Linked DNA regions of Homo sapiens. The protein of the gene in region 3 interacts with the protein of the main gene of each other region in a pairwise test. Each region holds a gene or a part of one and is shown on either strand. Other genes may lie near its edges.

What was found.
Region 1: the proteins of ERGIC3 (region 3) and BET1 interact in binary tests that used the Homo sapiens proteins (3 or more experiments, as listed by UniProt).
Region 2: the proteins of ERGIC3 (region 3) and PEX16 interact in binary tests that used the Homo sapiens proteins (3 or more experiments, as listed by UniProt).
Region 4: the proteins of ERGIC3 (region 3) and SYNGR1 interact in binary tests that used the Homo sapiens proteins (3 or more experiments, as listed by UniProt).
Region 5: the proteins of ERGIC3 (region 3) and MS4A13 interact in binary tests that used the Homo sapiens proteins (3 or more experiments, as listed by UniProt).
Region 6: the proteins of ERGIC3 (region 3) and MFSD6 interact in binary tests that used the Homo sapiens proteins (3 or more experiments, as listed by UniProt).
Region 7: the proteins of ERGIC3 (region 3) and SLC35A1 interact in binary tests that used the Homo sapiens proteins (3 or more experiments, as listed by UniProt).

Annotation. Positions count from the first base shown.
Region 1 is NC_000007.14:93,997,856-94,001,355, reverse strand, and holds part of BET1 (BET1 homolog), read left to right. Parts: intron 1-2,061; coding exon 2,062-2,186; intron 2,187-3,500. UniProt on the Homo sapiens protein: Required for vesicular transport from the ER to the Golgi complex. Functions as a SNARE involved in the docking process of ER-derived vesicles with the cis-Golgi membrane.
Region 2 is NC_000011.10:45,909,163-45,912,020, reverse strand, and holds the end of PEX16 (peroxisomal biogenesis factor 16), read left to right. Parts: intron 1-1,058; coding exon 1,059-1,123; intron 1,124-1,708; coding exon 1,709-1,767; 3' UTR 1,768-1,843; coding exon of another isoform or gene 1,844-1,932; 3' UTR 1,933-2,358; downstream 2,359-2,858. UniProt on the Homo sapiens protein: Required for peroxisome membrane biogenesis. May play a role in early stages of peroxisome assembly. Can recruit other peroxisomal proteins, such as PEX3 and PMP34, to de novo peroxisomes derived from the endoplasmic reticulum (ER).
Region 3 is NC_000020.11:35,545,078-35,548,577, reverse strand, and holds part of ERGIC3 (endoplasmic reticulum-Golgi intermediate compartment protein 3), read right to left. Parts: intron 1,167-3,500; coding exon 1,073-1,166; intron 70-1,072; coding exon 1-69. UniProt on the Homo sapiens protein: Possible role in transport between endoplasmic reticulum and Golgi. Positively regulates trafficking of the secretory proteins SERPINA1/alpha1-antitrypsin and HP/haptoglobin.
Region 4 is NC_000022.11:39,383,533-39,386,075, reverse strand, and holds the end of SYNGR1 (synaptogyrin-1), read right to left. Parts: 3' UTR 501-2,543; downstream 1-500. UniProt on the Homo sapiens protein: May play a role in regulated exocytosis. Modulates the localization of synaptophysin/SYP into synaptic-like microvesicles and may therefore play a role in synaptic-like microvesicle formation and/or maturation.
Region 5 is NC_000011.10:60,518,392-60,521,891, reverse strand, and holds part of MS4A13 (membrane-spanning 4-domains subfamily A member 13), read right to left. Parts: intron 1-3,500. UniProt on the Homo sapiens protein: May be involved in signal transduction as a component of a multimeric receptor complex.
Region 6 is NC_000002.12:190,432,355-190,435,854, reverse strand, and holds part of MFSD6 (major facilitator superfamily domain-containing protein 6), read right to left. Parts: intron 2,529-3,500; exon of another isoform or gene 2,463-2,528; intron 1-2,462.
Region 7 is NC_000006.12:87,479,474-87,482,973, reverse strand, and holds part of SLC35A1 (CMP-sialic acid transporter), read right to left. Parts: intron 1-3,500. UniProt on the Homo sapiens protein: Transports CMP-sialic acid from the cytosol into the Golgi apparatus, functioning as an antiporter that exchanges CMP-sialic acid for CMP. Binds both CMP-sialic acid and free CMP, but has higher affinity for free CMP.

The DNA.
Region 1 (3,500 bases), on a different chromosome or scaffold from region 3:
AAAGGTATGCACATTCAAAGTTCAATAACAGTGAACTCAGATTCTTTTCATTAATTAGTTCACATCATGTATTCATTGAGTGTGCCTTACAGTGTGTATGTGTTTGTAGGTTTATGGGGGGACATACAGTGTTGAGTCAAACAAACTTATTCTCTTCCCTTATAGTACTGTACAGAGTGCAATATTAGTGTTACATACAATCAGAGCTGTAAGAAATCAGTGAGAGTTTTGCTTCATAGGGAAAATGAAATTTCTATTGTGCCTTGAAAGAAGTTCCTATTCACACCTTGACTGTCCTTCAGTGATCAGTGCTGTTACCTCCTGTCACTGCTGCTGCATCTGCTCATTGAGCATATGGAGACTTCTAGTTTTGTTTGTTTTTAATAGATGAGGTCTTGCTGTGTTGCCCAGGCTGGTCTCAAATTCCTGGCCTCAAGTGATCCTGCCTCCCTCAGCTTCCCAAGTAGCTGGGATTATAGGTGCAAGCAACTGTGTGCAGCAGGCTCTGAGACTTCTAGTTTTGATATCATTCCTTTCCCCACATTCTCAAGTCACTGTTGAATCTGCTTTAATATCTGTCCAATCTAATCCCCATAATCCAGATCTTCAACCGCTCTTTTGGCAAGCAGTCTCAACCTCTTGGGGCTCCGTTTTTCTGCAACCTCAATATTATAAGCTTCCAACTATAGATTAGTCCAACCATCCACCTTCTCCTGGACTAACTCAGGCCGATGAACTCTTCTGCAGAAAAAAACCACACACCTGGGACGATTGAAGCCACCGTAGTATATTGCCTCAAACAAGTTTGTTTTATCTTTAGTAATCCTGTGCAGTCCCGGTCCCTTTCCTCCATCATTCTCCTTACTGTATATTCTGAATGATCACCCATTCTTCAGCAGATAGCCCGTTTTCTCCCTTTACTGAGAAAATTGATGGCAACAATTATGTTAAAAAAAAGTTCACGCCTGTAATCCCAGCACTTTGGGGGGCCGAGGCGGATGGATCATGAGGTCAGGAGATCGAGACCATCCTGGCTAACAGGGTGAAACCCTGTCTCTGCTAAAAAATACAAAAAAAAAAAAAATTAGCCAGGTGTGATGGCGGGCACCTGTAGTCCCAGCTGCTCGGGAGGCTGAGGCAGGAGAATGGCCTGAACCTGGGAGGCGGAGCTTGCAGTGAGCCGAGATCGCGCCACTGCACTCCAGCTTGGGCGACAGAGCGAGACTCCACCTCAAAAAAAAAAAAAAAGTATAGTTAACTAACACCCTGAACTATGCCGTTTCCTGTTAATCGCCCAACATATTTATATATGTATTCACTAAGGCCCACTCCATCTGTTGTTTGATAGCCTGATGACTATGAAGTACTATATTAGGCAGGGAGGTGTACATTCTTATCCCTTAGAGTTCCATAAAAGTAGCACCTAGAAAGAACAGTGGATCTGATACATGGTAATTCTTCAAATATATGTTGAAGAATAAATGAATCTCCCTCTTGACTCTCAGCTAGCATTCTGCATAAGTTATTGTGTCTCTTTCCTAGAGCTTCAGTTTGCCCCCTCCCTGCTTTGGCTCTTTCCTGTCCAACTGTCTATTTAAGAGAAAGAGATGCCAGTAAAGAACCCTCGCCGCTATGAGCTCCCGTCCTTCTGTATTAACCACTTTTCCCTTCCTCTTCACAGCCACGCTTTTTCAATGGGTAGATGATGTTACTGCTTTTAGAACTTTCATTAAAATATATGTTTCTCTTGAGCAGGGAATGTATCCTGAATATTCTTGTGTATTAGTACCTATTTTTGTATCTTCTGGACAATCAATAAGCAATCCAGAAATGTGTATCAAAATGAACTGAACTGAATATTCTTTGGTTAACAGAGAGTAATGGAAAGAATTGGTCTGATCTCTGTTTGGTTATTTATTTTTTAAATTCATTTGGAGTATGAATATTAGAGACATATGTGGTTTGCAAGGCCCTCCAGGGGTCTTTTTCAGTTCTTTCCTAACTAACAGTGTTTCAAAAGTGGCTTCTCTAGAACCACCTTTGTGACTCTGATCCTTGCAGGTGAAGGAGTACCTCCTGGCAACTATGGGAACTATGGCTATGCTAATAGTGGGTATAGTGCCTGTGAAGAAGAAAATGAGAGGCTCACTGAAAGTCTGAGAAGCAAAGTAACTGCTATAAAATCTGTAAGTATATAACAAATATTATATGTGTTTTAATTCATATATTTCTATACATATAATTATAAACTATATATTCTTATTGACGTCATCCTAAGGAATTCATTTACTCAGATACTGTGGTTTTGTGAGGTCAAAGTACACTCAAAATTTAGACTGTGCTTTGAGTAAGTTAAAAAATGTGGCACATCAAAAGATAGATTTTTTTTAATACTTAAGAAAAATCTCCAGCTCTTTTTTGTATACTGTATGCTGTCTGCTGTAATGTCTCAAACAGAGCTGTCCATCTTCCACCCCCAAGTAGCTCTTCTGCTTTTTTTAATCTAGCCTTCTAAGCTATAAATCTTGGTCTTTCTTATTTCTACCTTTGTACTTCATTTCAGTCACTGAGTCTTACACTGTCTTTCTGATGTTTCTATCTTTGCCTTTCTATTTCTAATACTATCCCCTGGTTTTCTTTTCTTTTCTTTTTTTTTGAGATGGAGTTTTGCTCTTGTTGCCCAGGCTGGAGTGCAATGGTGCAGTTTTGGCTCACTGCAACCTCTGCCTCCTAGGTTAAAGCAATCCCCCTGTCTCAGCCTCCCAAATAGCTGCGATTGCAGGTGCCCGCCACCACACCCGGCTAATTTTTGTATTTTTAGCAGAGACAGGGTTTTACCATGTTGGCCAGGCTGGTCTTGAACTCTTTATCTCAGGTGATCCGCCCGCCTTGGCCTCCCAAAGTGCTGGGATTATAGGTGTGAGCCACCGCACCTGGCCTATCCCCTGGTTTTCTTAGTTGAACTATTGGAAGAACATCTTAACCTATCTGTTCCTGTTTTTTTGCACATTATGATCTGAGCTATATAATCATTGCCACAGTCCTCGTTTAGAATATTTTAAAACTTGCATCCTGCACTCCCAGAAGTCTTCAGCGTCCTTCCATGATTTAATAAAGTTCATGCTTCGTAGCTTGATTAAATCAGATAGATCTTTCAAAAATTGGCCTTAGCTTTTGAGATCTTATCTCTCACACTTCCAGAATCTGTATGTGCTTCCTGCTAGACAAATTACACTTTGTGTCCTCTGTATGCTGTCACTTTCCCACCCCCATATCACACTATCCCTTTGCCTTAAGCCTCCACTTCCTTCTTAGATCAACTGAAGTGCTGCTTATCCACATCCGCCCCACTTCATTGCACCCCCTCCCTCCAAACTTTTACCTGATTACCACATCCAAAAGTAACTTTTCTTCTTATGAACATAAGACCATTTGTGCCATTTCTGTAGCACTTATTCATAGTGATTTGCATTGGCATTATTTGTATGTAAAAGGAATTT
Region 2 (2,858 bases), on a different chromosome or scaffold from region 3:
CGGAGTTTCACTCACGTTGCCCAGGCTGGAGTGCAATGGCGTGATCTCGGCTCACCGCAACCTCTGCCTCCCGGGTTCAAGCAATTCTCCTGCCTCAGCTTCCCAAGTAGCTGGGATTACAGGTGCGCGCCACCACGCCCGGCTAATTTTGTATTTTTTAGTAGAGATGGGGTTTCTCCATGTTGGTCAGGCTCGTCTCGAACTCCTGACCACAATTGATCTGCCCGCCTTGGCCTCCCAAAGCGCTGGGATTATAGGCATGAGCCACCACACCCGGCCCCCAGGCTTCCTCTTTTCTTGCTGCTCAGACAGACATATAAGGAGTCAGGCCGCCTTCCAGATGTGTAGCCTTGGGCAAGTTATTTGATGCGCCTGTGCCTCATTTCCTCACCTGTAAGATGGGGATGATGACAGTACCCACTTTGTAGGGGTTCAGTGACTAACGCGTACAGCAGTGCGTGGGGTGTAGTAAGCACGTAGCGCTATGTATTGTCATCAGCATCCTCATCTCACCCGAGTTCCCCTGTGGAAAACCCTCCTGTCTTAAAAATCAGGGCCTTGGGCCTTGCCCCTTCCCCTGAACCAAAATGTGCCCTCTTCAGTACTGTGTCCCCTACCAAGGTCCTGACTACTCTCATTGGTGGCTTGTGAGGTTTCCATGCAGCCCAGCACTTCTGCCAGACTGGGGGGCTTCCCGAGGGCAGGGTGGGGTTGTCCTCCCTGGACCCTCCACCATACTGCCAGGGCGCTGCTCCACATGCGACCCTCTAGAGGCCTTCAGTGTTGGATGTCGGTGGAAGGGGAAAGAGGAATGGGAGGAGGTGTTGTGGGTCAGCGGCCACCCCGAAGCTGAGCTGGTGGAGGGTGGAGGCCAGAGCCAACCCCAGAGGTCTTGCCCTTGTGTACCGGGCTTTGTCCTAGCTCCCAAGAAAGTCACCTTTGTTTTCTGGAATGCGCTGCATTCGGCACGGTGGTCAGTGAAGGCCTCTGGGCCTCCTGGTTTGCAGGGACCCACCCCCACCCCACTCAGCTTGCTCCCCATTTATTGCCTCCCCCAGGGCCAGGATCCTCTTCCTGCTCCAGTTGCTGGCCGACCACGTCCCTGGCGTTGGCCTGGTCACAAGTAAGCAGGGATGGGGACGCGATGACTGTAGTGCTGGAAGGCGCATGCATGCAAGCACCTCCCTGACTCCTCTGTCTCCTTGCAATTTGATTCTTGGCACAGTCAGGAGAGGAAGTCGGGAAGTCAGGATTGGGTGGGACTGCCCCTGGGCATAGGCCAGGGTGGCCTGAGGAGCCAGGGATGGCTGGAAGGAGGGTGTCCACTGGTGGGGGGACCACATCAGCTGCCAGCTTTTTTCTGGTCACAGTATCCTGGAGCGATACGGGACCATCTCATCTTGGGGGGATTCAATGGCAGAGAAGGGGTCCACCGGGCTGCTGAGATCCTCCCTCAGCAGAGGCCCACTGGGCTTGGGTTGGGTGACTGGACCTGACTCAGGCCCCTCAGTGTCTACCCTGGCTGAGCTTCTCTGGGCCTGAGGGTCTTTGTAAATGGTGCCAGAGTCCCCTGCAGTGCTGCCTCCTGGGGGCAGGGCAAGACAGCCAGCTGGGCTGGCTCCTGGGCCGCAGGGGTGAGGTGCTGTATGTGGCGCCACAGTGCAGATTGGGGTCTGGCCTGCCCTGATGTGTCCCTCTCCCACTGCAGGGCCGCTCATGGATTACTTGCCCACCTGGCAGAAAATCTACTTCTACAGTTGGGGCTGACAGACCTCCCGGAAGGAGGGTGTGGGGAGGGGTGGGGCAGGGAGCCCCTCTTCCCTAATAAAACTGACTCCGGCAGCGTCCCAGCGTGCGGCCTCTCCGTGCCTACCGGCCAGGCCCCACACACAGCCCTGGTCGCCACCAGCGTTCCTCCCAGGACACCCTTGACTGCGCTCTCCTGTGACGATGCCACTGCAGCCCGCACCTTGTCACTGCTGGGCCAAGAAGCCTTCACTAGGAGTGGGATCCAGGCTCCTCTCCCACAGAAAGCGGTGACTTCACCTCATGGAGCCCGGGAAGCTGCTCGCCTCGGCAGCCATAGGAGCGAACACTGCTGCTCTCTCGCTGGCCCCTGGTGAGGACAGGAAGCCTGAACCCGGGTGATGGCTGAACGCTGCCCAGCGTGTCTTCTGGCTGGGGCCCTCCGTCTGCCCCTTCTCCGCAGGGCCCTGTGGCTCTGGCAGCCCCAGGCCATGGCGTTGCCAGCCTCCCTGTGACAGAGCCTGGTGAACAGTGAGCCTGGCTCCCACGCAAGTGGCACTTTAAGCCCTGCATCCTCGGTTGAGAGTAAAAGGCTTTTCTCCCTTAGAAAAAGGACATCGGGCACTGGCCAGCACTGGGGAGGGAGTGGGAGCTGGACAGGCTCGGGGAGGAAGCCGGGGCCAGTTCAGGGGGTATGAGCTGGGGTTTCCCCATGCTTGCCCTGCAGGCTCCAGAGGCCGGGTCCACCTGGAGCCATGCAAGCTGCTATGGGGGAGGGCCTGGACAGGGTGGGCCGCAGGCTGGTCGTCTTCTCCCTGAACTTAGCCTGTCCTCAGCCACTGGCCCTGTGAAGAGCCAGCCTCTCATGCTAGAGTTTCAAACCCACAGAGAGGGCTCCATCTACACCTTGGTCCTCCATGCCTCAGCTCCTCCAAGACACACTGCTTTCCCCAGGGCCCTCTGAGGAGCGCCCCCCAGGTCCTCACCCACAGGCAGGGGAAGGGGCTGCCTGGGCTCCCATGGCCTCCAGCTTAGTGGAACAGGCGTTTCTGGGCACATGCCTGGCCATCAGAAACCAGCAGTGAAGCACAGTCCCCTGCCCTCCGCCTCTC
Region 3 (3,500 bases):
TCTGGGTTCTTGAAGGCCCAGCCTCTACGGCGATATGCCTCCCGCACATCTTCACAGGTGTTACAGCACCTGTAGGGCAGGGAGTGACGGTGAGAGTGTTAAAGAGGCATAAGTCCAGTGCTGGCATCTGGGGAAATAGAGCCCGAGCAGCTCTGCCTGCTAATGAAGGCTCTGCTAGCCTCATCCCTGACCACCAAACATTCTCCAAATGTGTTTCCTCAGTGGCAGAAGGACTGTTTTCTTTTTTTAATTTTTAAAATTTTTTTAGAGATAGGGTCTTGCTATGTTGCCCAGGCTGGTCTCAAACTCCTGAGCTCAAGTGATTCACCTACCTCGGCCTCCCAAAGTGCTACGGATTACAGGTGTAAGCCATTGTGCCCAGACTAGGACTGTGAAAAATACATATTCCCATTCTGTTTGAGGCGATGACAAGTTTTAGGACAGAGAGTGGTGACTGCATGACACTGTGAAGATACCTAATGCCACTGAGTTGCACACTTAAAAATAGTTAAAATGGTAAATTTTATGTCACATATTTTCCCACAATAAAAAAAAATTTAAGTACACATTCCCAGGCCCCACTCCAGACCTGCTGAATCAGTCTTGCAGAAGTCAGGGTCTGGGAAACAGCAGCAGTTATCAGATACTGAGGGTCTAATAATCTGGGCTGGGCCTTCCACCTCAGTGCTTTACACACAGTATACAGCTAATCCATATGTGACTCTTACGAGAAGATGTTATTATCATCCCTCTTCACATAGAGAGGTTACATGGCTTGGCCCAAGGAAACGGGTAGAACCCAGGTAACTGGACTCCAGAGACCACCTCTGAACCATTTCTCTAGGTGGAAGAGCAGAGACCACTTCAGCTTCATCTCTAGGTCTGCAGCTCCCAGATAGGGCCTGGTTACAAAGCCTCAGTCGCTTGCACCAGGATCAATGACAGAGGCACATACCCCGCCCACTCTAGATTCTTGGTCTGACCTCCCCACCTGCCACAGTCTGACTGAGGCTGAGGCTGACTGACAGATGGCGCCTGATGGGAACCCTGCTCCCGCTCCCCGCCAGCTCACTTGATATCTTCTGCCTCAGCACCATAGCAGCTCTCACAGCGATCAGGGTCCAGGGAGTCAGGGTCAAACACCGTCACCTCGACTTTCCCAAGCTCTAAGGGGAGGGGAGAAGCAGAGGCATCAGCTGGGGCCAGACACAGTGAAATCGGTGGCTCCAGTCTGCACAAGCCCTTTGCTTAGGGATAATAAAAGTTATAATAACTAATATTCATATAGTACATGCTACGGGTCAGGCATTAAGCACTTCTACACACATATCAATTCTTTTAATAAAAGAAACAGTAAGAAAACAGTCAACAGTAAATACTGAACATTAGCTGTGTACAGATCACTGTACTTCACAACCATCATCTCATTTCATCCCCACAATGACTCTTTGAGGGTGGCGGTAATTATCCCTGTTTTACTGAGAAGATGTTGAGGCTCACTGATGAGAAGTGACTTTGCCCAATGCAACCGAGGAAACAGATTTCAGCTAATTCCAACGTGTATGCCACTAACCTCTTGCCATGGTGCTTCTCCTCACACCTCTCCCTCTGCACCGGCTCCTTGCCTCACTCTAATCACCCCATCATAACTGGTGATTTCAATAATGAATACTGACCTCCCGACTCATGATAATCTTTTGATTTTGCCATCTCACCTCAGCTACCCATTTTCATACTCATACCTAGATCCTGTCACTGCCAATAACTGCAAATCTTCCAAAATTCAACTTCAAGTGTCTGAGTCTTCAACTACTTACCCTTATTTTCCAAGTTCACTATTTAGTACCCGAAATCCACCAATTCTTTGACACTGCTGACACTATCACGTCCTCACTTCCCTCCTGAAATCCCATGGTCCACTGTAATTATTCTCTTGCACATAACCACAACTCCCTGTTCCTCTCGTCTTTCATTTACAAATCCAGCAAAACCCACACCCTGGTTCCATTCAACTCTCTGTACCTACTTCTTTCCTGAAGCTCCTTTAGGACTGCCTGGCAATTCCACTTCATTTCTCTAATCAGTTCACTCTCCCACTCTCTAAGGTGACTTAGACCTTCTCCTCTCTCCTTAGGCTCCCAAAACCCCCTCCTATTTCTTCACTTAGCTAATGTCCTTGCTTTCAATTTCCACTAAGAAAAGAGAAGCAACAGAACTTCACTTGCTCTCACCACCAAACCCACCATCTCACCACTTTCTCCTTCAGATCCCACTCCATTTCTCAGCTCTCCCTTACAGTGAAACTCCCAAGTCACCTATAGGTAATGTCTCCACTTCCTTTTTTGCTCTTTGATCCGATTTTCATCCTCAACAGTATCAAAATTGTTCCTTTCAAAGTCTCCAGGAATCTCTTTGTTGCTAATTTCAATGGTCAATTCTCACTCCTCATTTTACTGGACTATCAGTAGCTTCTGATACAACTGCTCACTCTCTCTTCTTGAAACTCTCTCCACTTGGCTTTTGGGACACCTCTTGGTTCTTCTACGTCAATGGCTAATCCGTCCCAATCTTCCTTCCTGTCCTGACTTTTAAATATTGGAGATACCCAGGGTACAGGCCGTAGACCTATCCTCTACCTACATTGACTCCCCAGGTTTTCTTAGTCCAGTTGTTTAAACTACCCTGTACCTGCTGATAACTCCTCTAAATTCTAGACTGGTACATCTAATTGCCTCTTAATATCACCAGAGTATAAAATAGGAACCCCAAATTTAACATACCCCAAACCTGAGATTCCTCTTTCCTGCAAATCCTGACCTTACTCTGTGGAAGCTAGTTTCCAAGATGTCCTCAATGATCCCCACTTCCTAGTATTCACACCCTTATGTAGTCCTCTCCCACAATGAGTAAGGCTGACCTGTGTAAGCACTAGTATATTGCAGAAATGATGGTGTACAACTTCTGAGGCTGGGTCATAAAAAAGGTTACACGTTTTTTTGTTGTTGTTGTTGAGACAGAGTTTCACTCTTGTTGCCTAAGCTGGAGTGCAGTGGCGTGATCTCGGCTCACTGCAACCTCTGCCTCTCTGGTTCAAGTGATTCTCCTGCCTCAGCCTCCTGAGTAGCTAGGATTACAGGTGCCCACCACCACACCCGGCTAATTTTTTTTTTTTTGTATTTTTTAGTAGAGATGGGGTTTTACCATGTTGGCCAGGCTGGTCTTGAACTCCTGACTTCAGGTGATCCAACTGCCTCAGCCTCCAAAAGTGCTGGGACTACAGGCGTGAGCCACCATGCCTGGCCAAAGGTTATGGTTTCTACTTTGTTCTCTCAGCTCACTTGCAAGATCCAAGTGGGGGAAGCCAGTTGCCGTGATACAAGGACACACAAGCAACCCTACTGAGAGGCCCATGTGGTGAGGCACTGAGGCATCCTGCCAACAGCCCTATGAGTGAGCCCTTTAAAAGCAGATCCCCTGCTGGGCGTGGTGGCCCATGCCTG
Region 4 (2,543 bases), on a different chromosome or scaffold from region 3:
GCTTCAACTGTAATAATTTTCCTTTTTTTTTTTAGATGGATTTTTGCTCTTGATGCCAAGGCTGGAGTGCAATGGCACAATCTTGGCTCACTGCAACCTCTGCCTCCCCGGTTCAAGTGATTCTCCTGTCTCAGCCTCCCGAGTAGCTGGGATTACAGGCGTCTGCCACCACACCCGGCTAATTTTTTTTTTTTTTTGTATTTTTAGTAGAGACAGGTTTTCACCATGTCGGTCAGGCTGGTCTCGAACTCCTAACCTCAGGTGATCCACCCACCTTGGCCTCCCAAAGTGTTGGGATTACAGGCATGAGCCACTGCAGTCGGCCAATTTTACTTTTTAAAAAGATAATATATTCATAGGTTCATTGTGTAATGAAAAATTAACAAACAATAATAACCAAGTAAGACATGGCCTGTCTAAGGAGACAAACGGGATGGAGCATCCAAGCCAAACGCAGAATGAAGAACAAAGAAACACGGTGACACACTTGCAATCGCTGGTGGGTTCTGAGTCTTCACTTTATTACTATGTCACCAGAAGTCACCACCTTCACTTGGTTCACCACAGATGGATGGATGTCATAAAGGAGGGTGCCACGGGGCCACTGGATTCACTCGAGACTTAACCAGGTGGTGGGGGGGTCTAGAGTGGGGGCCCAGGATGGGGACCGCCCTTCACCGCACACACACGCACACACACACACAGATATATTTGTGGAGCCTTATATTATACATCTTATATATAGAAAATATATATATTTATACTATACACAGGCAGTAACGCTGCGGGAGGGGCCGGGGCACCGACAAGGGCTGTGCGCACCAGGACATGGGGAGTGTCAGGTCAAGTGCATCGCTGGGAGGCAGCCGGCCCAGTCCCTTCTCCCATAAACTCCTGGGAGGGGCATTCCCCCTTTCGTGCTCCTTAGAGAATCAAAGGGGTCTTGGGCCAAGGTTAGGGGTCTCCCAGGGCTAACAGGCAGGGTGTCTCAGTTACATGGGGAAACCTGGGATCCCCGAGGCTTTGAAGATCAAGAATCACCAGGGAAGGATGGAGTAGGGAACTAACGTCAGTCCCCTGGGAATTAGCCCCTCAACTGCGACACCCCCAGGTGGATAGGAGCCGTGCAGGCAGGACAGTCTGTGACTGCCCAGGATGAGCCAACTCAGAAGGCAGAAGACCTGACTCCTGAACCTCTCCCTCTGTGCTTGACCTTGGACAAGTCGCTGTCTCCCTACCCCAGACTCTGCCGACTCTAAGCGTCCTTGCGACTCTACACTTATGTGAAACCTTTTTTCCTGGGCCCTCTCTTGTGCTTGATGGGGAGGAGGGAGCCACCCTGCAGGGTCCAGCTGCAGGAGGGCCCTTCTCCAAGGAAAGCTTTGGGAGCAAGGGAGAAGTAGGGGAGGGCAGCTGGGAGGAAAAGGGATACCGGACAGAGTTGGGCCTGGGGTTCCCCAGGGGCTGTCCTCTGCCAACAGAAGGAGCGAGTTTCCCCATGAACCTTCCAGGGCAGAGTCAGGAGCCCTGGGTCCCATCCAAATCTCGCCCTCCATCTCTCACCCTCTCTCATCTCCATCCTGGGCAGGTCCCTGCCAGAGCCCAGCCTGATGGGGAAGATCATGCCTGGAAGGGCTTCTGGGCTGAACCCGGGAAGAGTGAGGGATTCTTCGTGAGATGACTCAGCACCCCCCATTCCTGGCAGGAGTCTTGACAGCTTTCCCTGCCTAGGGTGGCAGGCAGGGCCTGTCACAAACACCCAAGATGGAGTTAAGCTTACCTGGTACCCTGCCCTCCGGCTGAGGATCACCAGCAGCTGGCTGGCACCCGAGGAGAAACAGATGGGCAGTACCCTGAGGTCTCCTAGTGCCCATCAGCAGGAGAGGCTTTTGGTGGACAGTGGGTGAGGGTCAGAACATCTCACAGCCTCTTGTGGTGGGCACAGAACTTCACTCTGCCATAAACACTCCTGCCCTCACTCACGCCCTCACCTTTGGCCTGGTACAGGTTTCACTCTTCAGGCCAACAGATAACCTGCCCCCATGCTGGTCCCATGTGGGCCACCTGGCGGCGGGGGACTGTGGACAGAGCCCCTTCTCCGGATTGGAAAATGAAGTCAGCAACAACCAGCTGTCACACAGCTGGCTGGGGTCCTCTCCATCACTGCTGTCCTTTGGGAGGACTTGGACACACCTGAGTTTAGATCCGTGTTCCACTGCCAACTCGCCTATGCTTGCCGAGCCTCAGTTTCCCTTCTGTTAAATGGGGATAATGGTGCTACTTCTCTGCTTAGGACTTCCTCCTCTTTCCCTTAACTCTGGCCCAGCTTTGGGGCCATCGAAGCAGGGACCACCCATGCCCTTGGTATCTCCAGCACAGGGGCCGGGTAACTGCTGAGTGAGTAAGCAGGTGAGGGATCGCCTGCCTCTTAGGATTCTTAGATGGGGGATGGGGGGATGGTGGTGAAAACACCCAGCACTGGGCCCGTCCACCACCTGCTCTGCTCTGCTCCCTGAAGGACAGGCCAGTGGACACTGGGTGGA
Region 5 (3,500 bases), on a different chromosome or scaffold from region 3:
CAAACCTCTATCTTTTGTAAATTGCCCAGTCTCAGGTATGTCTTTATTAGCAGCATAAAAATGGACTATTACAATAAATTGGCACCAGGAGTGGGGTGCTGCTGAAAAGATACCCAAAAATTTGGAAGTGACTTTGGAACTGGGTAACAGGCAGATGTTAGGACAGTTTGGAGGACTTAGAAGAAGACAGGAAAATGTGGGAAAGTTTGGAACTCCCTAGAGACTTGTCAGATGGCTTTGACCAAAATGCCAATAATGATATGAAAAATGAAATCAAGGCTGAGGTGGTCTCAGATGGAAGATGAGGAATTTGTTGGGAATTAGAGCAAGGTGACTCTTGTTATGTTTTAGCAAAGAGACTGGTGGCATTTTTCCCTAGAGATTTGTGGAACTTTGAACTTGAGAGAGATGATTTAAGATATCTGGCAGAAGAAATGATCTAAGCAGCAAACCTTTCAAGAGGTGACTTGGATGCTGTTAAAGGCATTCAGTTTTATAAGGCAAGCACAGCATAAAAGTTCAAAAAAATTTACAGCCTGACAATGTGATAGAAAAGAAAAACCCATTTTCTGAGGAGAAATTTAAGCCAGCTGCAGAAATTTGCATAAGAAATGAGGAGCTGAATGTTAATTCTCAAGACAATGGGGAAAATGTCTCCAGGGCATGTCTGAGATCTTCATGGCAGCCCCTCCCATCACAGGCCCTGAAGCCTAGGAGGAAAAAGTGGTTTCATGGGCCGGGCCCAGGGCCCCTGTACTATGTGCAGCCTAGGGACTTGGTGCCCTGAATCCCAGCTGCTTCATCTGTGGCTGAAAGGGGCCAATGTAGAGCTTGGGCCATGGCCTCAGAGGGTGCGAGCCCCAAGCCTTGACAGTTTCCATGTGGTGTTGAGCCTGCGGGTACACAGAAGTCAAGAATTAAGGTTTTGGAACCTCTGCCTAGATTTCAGAGGATATATGGAACTGCCTGGATGCCCAGCGGAAGTTTGCTGCAGGGGCGGGGCCCTCATGGAGAACCTCTGCTAGGGCAGGGCAGAAGGGAAATGTGGGGTCGGAGCTGCCACACAGAGTCCCTACTGAGGCACTGCCTGGTGGAGCTGTGAGAAGAAGGCCACCATCCTCCAGACCCCAGAATGGTAGATCCTCTGACAGCTTGCACCGTGTGCCTGGAAAAGCTGCAGACAACGCCAGCCTGTGAAAACAGCCAGATCAGGGCTACACCATGTGAAGCCACAGGGGTAGAGCAGCCCAAGGCCATGGGAGCCCACCTCTTGCATCAGCATAACCTGGATGTGAGACATGGAGTCAAAGGAGATCATTTTTGAGCTTTAAGATTTGACTGCCCCACTGGATTTTAGACTTGCATGGGGCCTGTAGCCTTTGTTTCAACCAATTTCTCGCATTTGGAACAGCTGTATTTACTCAAGCCTGTACCCCCATTGTATCTAGGAAGTAACTAACTTGCTATTGATTTTACAGGCTCATAGGTGGAGAGGACCTTGCCTTGTCTCAGATGAGACTTTGGACTGTGGACTTTTGAGTTAATGCTGAAATGAGTTAAGACTTTGGGGGACAGTTGGGAAGGCATGATTGGTTTTGAAATGTGAAGACATGAAATTTAGGAGGGGCCAGGGGCAGAAAAACTCCCATTTCTTAAAACCATTAGATCTTGTGAGACTTATTCACTATCATGAGAACAGCATGGGAATGACTCGCCACCCCCCCAGCCTCATGATTCAGTTATCTTCCACCAGGTCCCTCCCACAATACTTGGGAATTATGGGAGCTATAAGATGAGATTTGGGTGGGGACACACAGCCAAACCATATCATCTTTCTATACCTTGGGCTTGTGGTTCTTGTTCTCTCCTCCAATCCCTGACTCCAAACTATCTTAGTCACTCACTCCCATAATCATTCTCTTGTCCTTGTTGTACCTTTCAAATCTTAATTTCAAGTATTCCACCTGATCATCACCTGCTATCTTTCTAGCTCATGCCCTCTAGTATTAAAATTCTAACAACCCTTTGACCCCACCTGGGTCTATAATCTGAGAACTTCAACTCTCTGTTAAATTCTTCTTTCCATCACTAACTTAAATTTCATGGCCAACCATTACAAACACTGCCCTATATCCACTTGCAATTGCTTTGCACCTTTCTTGTTTTATTATAGTTGCACAGCTAAACAAAGATCCTGATTGTTTTTATCCTACTGCATGGTTGCACTCATGCAGCTGAACATGGCCTGAGGAAGGCATACAACCCATATTCATATCCTGTTCCTAAACCTCAAGTATGTCCTTAATGCTGTGTGAAAATAAAACCACCTCTCCATAATCTGTGCACTCTCACTTTTCCTCGATGATTATTTCATATTCTCTTGCCTTTCCTCAAACAACCAAACCACTTCCCCATACTCAATCTCAGCTCATAATCTTGCTTCCTAATTCATTGAGCTATTTGAAGCTACTGGAAAAAAAAAAAAACTTCCACAGGCTTCCAACATCCTATCAAAGAAAACTCTCCTTTCTCTGCCTTTCCCTTCTGTTTTTGTACTTTGAAACCATTTATAATTAGACTGGATAATTCTTTGTTGTGAGGTGCTGTCCTGTGGATCACAGGCTATTTAGCAGCATCTTTTGCCCCTGCCCATCTGATGTACATCTCCAGCGGTGAAAATCCAAAATATCTCCAGATATTATAAAATGTTATCAGGGGCAAAATTGCCTCTAGCTGAGAACCATGCCCTAGATAAACTTTCTATGCTCCTAGCTATTTGTGCATCAAAATCCATCACCTCTTGCCTACACAAATACTTGATCCCAATACCCACCCCCATTTACTCATATCATCAATTTTCTTTCTTTTGGTTCAGTCCTCTCAACAAAGGATATGATGCTGTTTCTTTCAACTCACAGAAACTAATAAGCAAACCCTCTCTTGAGCCAAGTTTCCCCAGCTATCACCCCATTTCTTTATACCACATTACAGTAAAGTCCTTAAAGAAGCTCCTGTTTGCTGTCTGTAATTCCTCTCTTCCTATTTTTTTCTTAAATCAACTCCTACCAGGTTTTTGCTTCACAATTCCACTGAAACTACTTGTAAAATTTACTACTGACTTCCATATTGCTAAATCCAATGGTCAATTCGTAGTCCTCATTTTATTTGACAAAACAACAAAATATAATATAGTTGATCCTTCCTCATTTCTTCTAACAATTTCTTCACTTGGCTTCCAGGATATCATGCTCTCCAGGTTTTCCTCTACCTAATGGCTATCTAGAAACCACAGGAGAGTGTTAGTAATGAAAAATTTAGAAAATGAGTACTGACTCATTGGGTGAGGAGACTGAAGTGAAGATAATAAACATGCAAGTTAATCATGCTAATGGATATTATAGTTAAGATTCTTTGCCTTTCACATATCTAGGGACAAACTGCCCTATGGTTGTCATTGTGTACTCCTGTATCCATATCTCTTGAAACAGCACTTGTAAATT
Region 6 (3,500 bases), on a different chromosome or scaffold from region 3:
ATCATTTATCACTTGCAGCCACACAATACCGGTAAGGAAAAATAGCTTTTAAAAAAATCGAATACTCTTTATGGCCACTGACTGACTAATTACATCTTCCAATGGCAGGTTTACAGCTCAGATTCATTCCCAGTCTTTTCATTGATTCCCAGGGAAAATGTACAAATAATAGGGATTATGTCTAAACCAAACACAGAGAGTTGAAAATAAACACTGTTTATAGTTTCTTGATTTTACTGTTCAAACAAATCCACTACATTATGAAGTCTAGGATTCTTTAGAAAATAAAGGTAGCAAAACCATTCTGTTTCTAAGGAAAAATAGGTTGCACTTAACCACAACCACAAATGTAATGAGAAAGAGGAAGCCGATGGCATTGTTGCAACTATAGTGCTCACTGGAGCCATGACAAAGATACCCTGGTAATGAAGGAGTCTTCACATTGCATATATTATGTACAGTCCTCCAGATGTGCTTTATAGATAGCAGTTTAAGAAAATGGCAAGAAAAAAGAGCAGATAATACTTATTTAGCACTCTGTATCAGATAAGATTAAAAGATCTTTACATGTATTCATTCATATTCATCACAATAGCCCTATTATCTTGTCCATTTTACAGATGAGAAGAATGAGGCATGGCAGGTTTAACTAATAAGAGGCAGTGCCAGGATTTGAACCCTGACATTATGGCTTCAGGACACATGCTCTCTACGATGGTAGTCCCCAACCATTTTGGCACCAGGGACTGGTTTCATGGAAGATAATTTTTCCTCAGATGGAGAGGGGGGTTGGTTTTGGGATGAACTGCTCCACTTCAGATCATCAGGGTAATTCTTAGGTTCTCATAAGGAGCACACAACCTACATCCCTCGCATGCACAGTTCACAATAGCGTTCATGCTCCTATGCAAATCTAATACCTCTGCTGATCTGACAGGAGGAAGAGCTCATGTGATAATGCTTGCTGGCCCGCTCTTGCTGTGCAGCCCAATTCCTAACAGGCCACAGAGTGGTAGCGGTCCATGGTCCAGGGGTTGGGGAACCCTGCTCTAAGACACACTAAACTGAAAAATAACACATTTTAGATAAGATGCCAGTAAACTTTTTTGAAAAACAGTGTTTTGGCCGGGCGCGGTGGCTCACACCTGTAATCCCAGCACTTTGGGAGGCTGAGGGGGGCGGATCATGAGTTCAGGAGATTGAGACCATCCTGGCCAACATGGTGAAACCCCGTTTCTACTAAAAGTACAAGAATTAGCTGGGCCTGGTGGCACGCATGTAGTCCCAGCTACTTGGGAAGCTGAGGCAGGCAAATTGCTCGAACCCAGGAGGCGGAGGTTGCAGTGAGCTGAGATTGCGCCACTGCACTCCAGCCTGGCAACAGAGCGAGACTCCGTCTCAAAAAAATAAATAAATAAAATAAAATAAATAAATGTTTTTCATATACGATATTAGCAATATACATTTATATAAATTTATAGGAACTGTGCCAGCATCCCATCAGAATTTCCCTTTCTTCTATTAAAGATTGAATGATTAAAGTGTCAAAAGGTCTTGTGTGCATCAAGAATTATGTTGTTCCAATGAACAGATTCTGATGGTAGGAAGTATATACATTAAATATGTGTTAATTCCTTTCACCTTCTTTTCTTTTTTTTCTTTTTTTTTTTTTGAGAGACAGGGTCTTACTCTGTCACCCAGGCTGGAGTGCAGTGGTGTAATTATGGCACTGCAGCCTCAACCTCCCAGTCTCAAGCAATCCTTCCACCTCAGTCTCCTAAGTAGCTAGGACTACAGACGTGTGCCACCATGCCCAACTAATTTTTGTAGAGATGGGGTTTTTGCCATGTTGCCCAGGCCGTTCTCCAACTCCTGGGCTCAAGTGATCCTCTTGCCTCAGCCTCCCAAAGTGCTGGGATTACAGGCGTGAACCACTGCACCCTGCCTCCTTTCACTTTCTTTACTAGAGAAAAATATCAGTTTCACTTGCTACCCCTTGGAATAGATCTTGCTCTTTGTTTTCCCAAAATGAATAACATTCTGAAAAACCTTCTAAAATTATACTTGTAAGCATTTTTTAATCTCTACAAAGCTCCTAGGTAGACAATGGAACACAACTTAAGGAGACCTGTGTAAGGAGTCAATTTATCTGTTATCCCCAAAAGCCAGATGTCAATGTAGCTGTAAGCTTTGAAAATGTTCATGTCGGTTTTTTAGGTTAAAAAAAATTTAACTGAAGTGAAATTCACATAACACAAAATTAACCATTTTGAAAGTGAACAATTCAGCGGTAATTTACTATATTCACAATGTATATGGCCACCACCTCTATTTAGTTTCCAAATCAGGTTTTTCTTAATAGTGAAAGAAAAACATTTTTTTCCTCCTAGAAAATGTGAAGGTTAAGCAAAATCCAATCTTTTGCTGCTTAGCTATACATGACTTTCTTTAATGTTCTATACCTATTTTTCCTTCATCATTAGTGCCTTCACCTATCCAGCTCAGCGGCTCCAATTCCATTTCATCATCTGAAAAGAAAAAATAATTTGCCCTCAAATCTATTTTCTAAATTAATTTAATTCCTGAGCTCAAAATTCAAAGAAACATTTCTTGTGTTTCAAATGTATAAAATTATGTGATACTTCTGGGTAAAGAGAGCAGATTAAACACATGTAGTTTGAATCCTTCCCTGAACCCACTAAAATGACAATAAACACACACACACCCAAACATACACACACACTGTAAAAGTCATAATTCAAGCTAGAAAGATTAAAGGGCACATAATAGCAATAAAATAAAATTACGGAAAGCAGAAAGTAAACAATTGGTAAAAGACTTGGTAGATCTGAGAAAACTAAAACCTTGGTTGATTATAGGGAAAGCCAAGAACTAATAAAATTTACTACTCGGAATCCCTGAAAGGCTCATGAGTTAGCTATATTAGATTTATATGCAAGTAAGAGAAAGAGTGTATGTGTGAGTAAGTGAGTGAAAGAGAGAGAGAGAGAGAGTGTGTGTGTGTTGGGGGGCGGGGGTGGCAGGGGTTGGGGAGGTGCTCAAATAGAGCTGACTGAAAGTCTAAACCCCAAACAAATGCAGGTTATTTTCCTCTGGAAAGTAAAACACAGAGATTTTGGCCAGGTGCGGTGGCTCACGCCTGTAATTCAAGCACTTTAGGAGGTTGAGGTGGGTGGATCATTTGAGGTCAGGAGTTCAAGAGCAGCCTGGCCAACTTGGCAAAACCCTGTCTCTACTAAAAATACAAAAATTAGCCAGGCATGGTGGCAGGTGCCTGTAATCTCAGCTACTTTAGAGGCTGAGGCAAGAGAATCACTTGAACCCAGGAGCCGGAGGTTGCAGAGAGCCGAGATCACGCCACTGCATTCTCCAGCCTGGGTGACGGAGCAAGACTCTGTCTCAAAAAACAAAAACAAACAAGAAACACAGAGGTTTTCTGGCCATAGAGCACCAAGCAGAGTTGTAAACGGTGCCATGCT
Region 7 (3,500 bases), on a different chromosome or scaffold from region 3:
ATCCTTAACCCAGTAACCCGCAGATGACCCAAATGCATTCAATCTGTACCGGCAACTGCTTTGCTAACAGAAGAAAGTAGAAAAATAACTTTTAGAGGAAACCTCATTGTGAGCACACCTCACCCAGTTCAGAAGTATCCTAAGACAAAAAGGTAACTTACTAACTCAAAAATCTTAAAGTATGGGGCTATTCTGTTAGAAAAAGATGATTTAACATTAACCACTGATAATTCCCTTAACCCAGCAGGTTTCCTCACAGGGGATCTAAATCTTAATTAATTACCATATAAAGGTCCGACCAGACCTAGAAGGAACTCCCTTCAGGACAGGACGATAGATGGTTCCTCCCGTGTGACTGAGGGAAAAAGCCACAACGGGTATTCAGTAAGTGATAGGGAAACTCTTATAGAAGTAGAGTTAGGAAAATTGCCTAATAGTTGGTAAGCTGTTTGCACTCAGCTAAGCCTTAAAGTACTTACAGAATCAGGAAGGAGTGGTCTATACCAATTCTAAGTTAATTTAAACTAAAGAAAGTCTTATTAATAGCAAAGGATAATTGAAATACCAAACTTACAAGGTTTTCCACAAAGGTAAAGTTTGCCAAAAGTTAGCAGTGTAATATGTATTATCCTAACTTCTAATCTTGTGGCCTTAGGCAGTCTAGTCCACAGACCTGAAGGAAGTTTGCTTTGGAAAAGAATGGTTATCATCTTGGGGGAAAAAAAAGGAGGGGGGGGAGAATTTATATAAAAAGAATGTTATATGGTAAATTATTATCCTAAAATAAATTAACTGGTTATTTAAAGAAAGCGATGTTTACAGGAAGTCAGAAAATTGAGGCCTGTCGAAGATTGCGAAAGTCATGAAAAATGCTATAAAAGGGAACTTATGCAAGAAATGTTGTATAATTTAAAAGTAATTAGGCCTCCTGAATGTAAAACTATTGAAGAAACAGTTTATGTGCAAGGTGTATAATGAAAGTAAAATATACTTTTGGTAAAAGGATAATAAGGAGGCATAGAATGTGGATTTTTACCTACATTAAAAGGTTAAAAAAAATTTTGTTTTGAGCGTTTAAGCAAGTTTTAAAATGTTAATTGTAAAGGAAATTCTGTGTGTAACCATATTGGCTAAAGTTAAAGGGGTATCATCCAGTTTTTCTGTGAACTGGACATTAAAATAAAAGCACAATGGGTTTTTCTTAAAACACTAAAAAACACTAAACTGCTCTTTAACAAATTTTATAAAAGGTTAAAAAGAGTCTATGGAAATCTTACCTTATGGTCAGACATTAAAATCGGATAAATATGTCTACAGGGTTTTATTAAAATTGAGTTTAATATTAATAATACACTAATATAAAGGTGAAATTTAGCTTATCTGGTATAATCATACAGGAAGCACTGTCAAATATAAAATGGTGTTTGGCTTTCTTTGGTCTAAAAACTAATAAAAATAGGTTTCTCAGGAAGTTTCTAAAGGAAGTTTCTCAGGAAGAAGGCACTAAGGACTATAAAGTCCACTGCTGGTGTCCCCCAATTTTTTTTTTTTTTTTTGAGTCAGAGTTTCGCTCTTGTTGCCCAGGCTAGAGTGCAATGGCGCGATCTCGGCTCACCACAACCTCCGCCTCCCAGGTTCAAGCGATTCTCCTGCCTCAGCCTCCCAAGTAGCTGGGATTACAGGCATGTGCCACCAAGCCTGGCTAATTTTGTATTTTTTAGTAGAGACAAGGTTTCTCCATGTTGGCCAGGCTGGTCTTGAAACTCCTGACCTCAGGTGATCCACCCGCCTCGGCCTCCCAAAGTGCTGGGATTACAGGCATGAGCCACCGCGCCCAGCCTGGTGTCCCCAAATTTAAAACAAAAGATCAGTTTCTCATAAATTATATACTTGGTTTATCTTCCACTTTCCTTTCCCTCAAAACTACAAGTCTTTTAGCACAGGTACCACCCCTAGAATTTCTGGTAAACGGGCACTAGCCTGGGGATCACACCCTCATCAAAGGGTAGAAAGAAGGAAAACTCAAGCCAGCCTGAGAAGGACCCTACCTTGTGCTGCTAACCACCAAGACTATGGTTTGTACCACAGAAGGGGGATGGACACATCACACCCGAGTCAAGCAAGCACCATTACCATCAGAATCATGGACCATTGTTCCTGGATCAAGCCTTACCAAATTAAAGCTAAGAAAAGCTTAGTCTATCTATCTTTTCCTTCCTTTCCTAACACAGTGCCTATATCCATTACTGTTCCTACCACTAGCAACTCTAACCCCACTTTAGAGCGTTTCTATGGTTTAGGAGCAGAAGTCACTGGAAAGGACCCTATAGGCTTCTTTAAGATGCGCTTTGTTCTCCCTGCTCTACCTCCTACAACTGCCCCTTTCACAAACCTACGAAATAAAACTATGCCTCGCCTCATGCCAAATGACAAAAGCAAGGTCTCAGTAGTAGAAATAGGAGACCTAAGGCAAACCATAGCTATTGACAGGGTATAAAGATGTAAATGCCTGGTTAAAATGTATTAAATATTCCATTCACACTTTAAACAAAAGTAACTGTTACACTTGTGTGCACGGTAGGCTAGAGGCCCAGGTTGTTACCTTTCCACTGGGATGGTCCTCAAATCAAGTGGACATGGAGTGCATGGTAGCTTTTTCAAGATTCTACTGCCTGGAATAACAAATTGTGCTAAGCTCTTTCTCTGCTATTTCCTGAAGTCCAACACCCTGCAGGTCAGCCCCCAAGGGCCATCCAGCCTCCATCTTCCAAAACCAATTTTACCTCGTGTCTCTAACGACACGGGGAAAAATTTGGCATTTCTTGGAGACTTAACAGGATGCAGTGAAGTTAGGCACTTCCAAGAGGTGACCCGTCAATCTGCCCTTATTCATCCCTGAGCGGATGTATGGTGGTATTATGGAGGACCTTTACTGGACACTCTGCCAAATAATTAGAGCAGTAGTTATGCTCTAGTTCAATTGGCTATCCCTTTTACTCTGGCATTTCATCAACCAGAGGAAGGAAAAATAAGACATCATAAAGTGAGAGAAGCTCCTTATAGGTCATTCAACTCTCATGTCTATTTAGATGCAATTGGAGTCCCACGGGGAATACCAGATCAATTTAAAGCCCGAAATCAAATAGCTGCAGGATTTGAGTCAATATTTTGGTGGGTCACAATTAATAAAAACATAGATTGGATAAACTACATCTATTATAACCAACAGCAATTTATGAACTACACTAGAGATGCTGTTAAAGGAATAGCTGAGCAATTAGGGACTAACTGCCAGATGGCTTGGGAAAATAGGATAGCCTTAGACATGATATTAGCAGAAAGAGGAGGAGTTTGCATCATGATTAAAACTGAATGTTGTGCCTTCATCCCAAACAACACTGCCCCTAATGGAAGTATAACAAAGGCATTGCAAGGTCTGACTGCTCTGTCCAATGAGTTAGCCAGCAGCTCAGGGGTAAATGACCCCTTTACAGGATGGC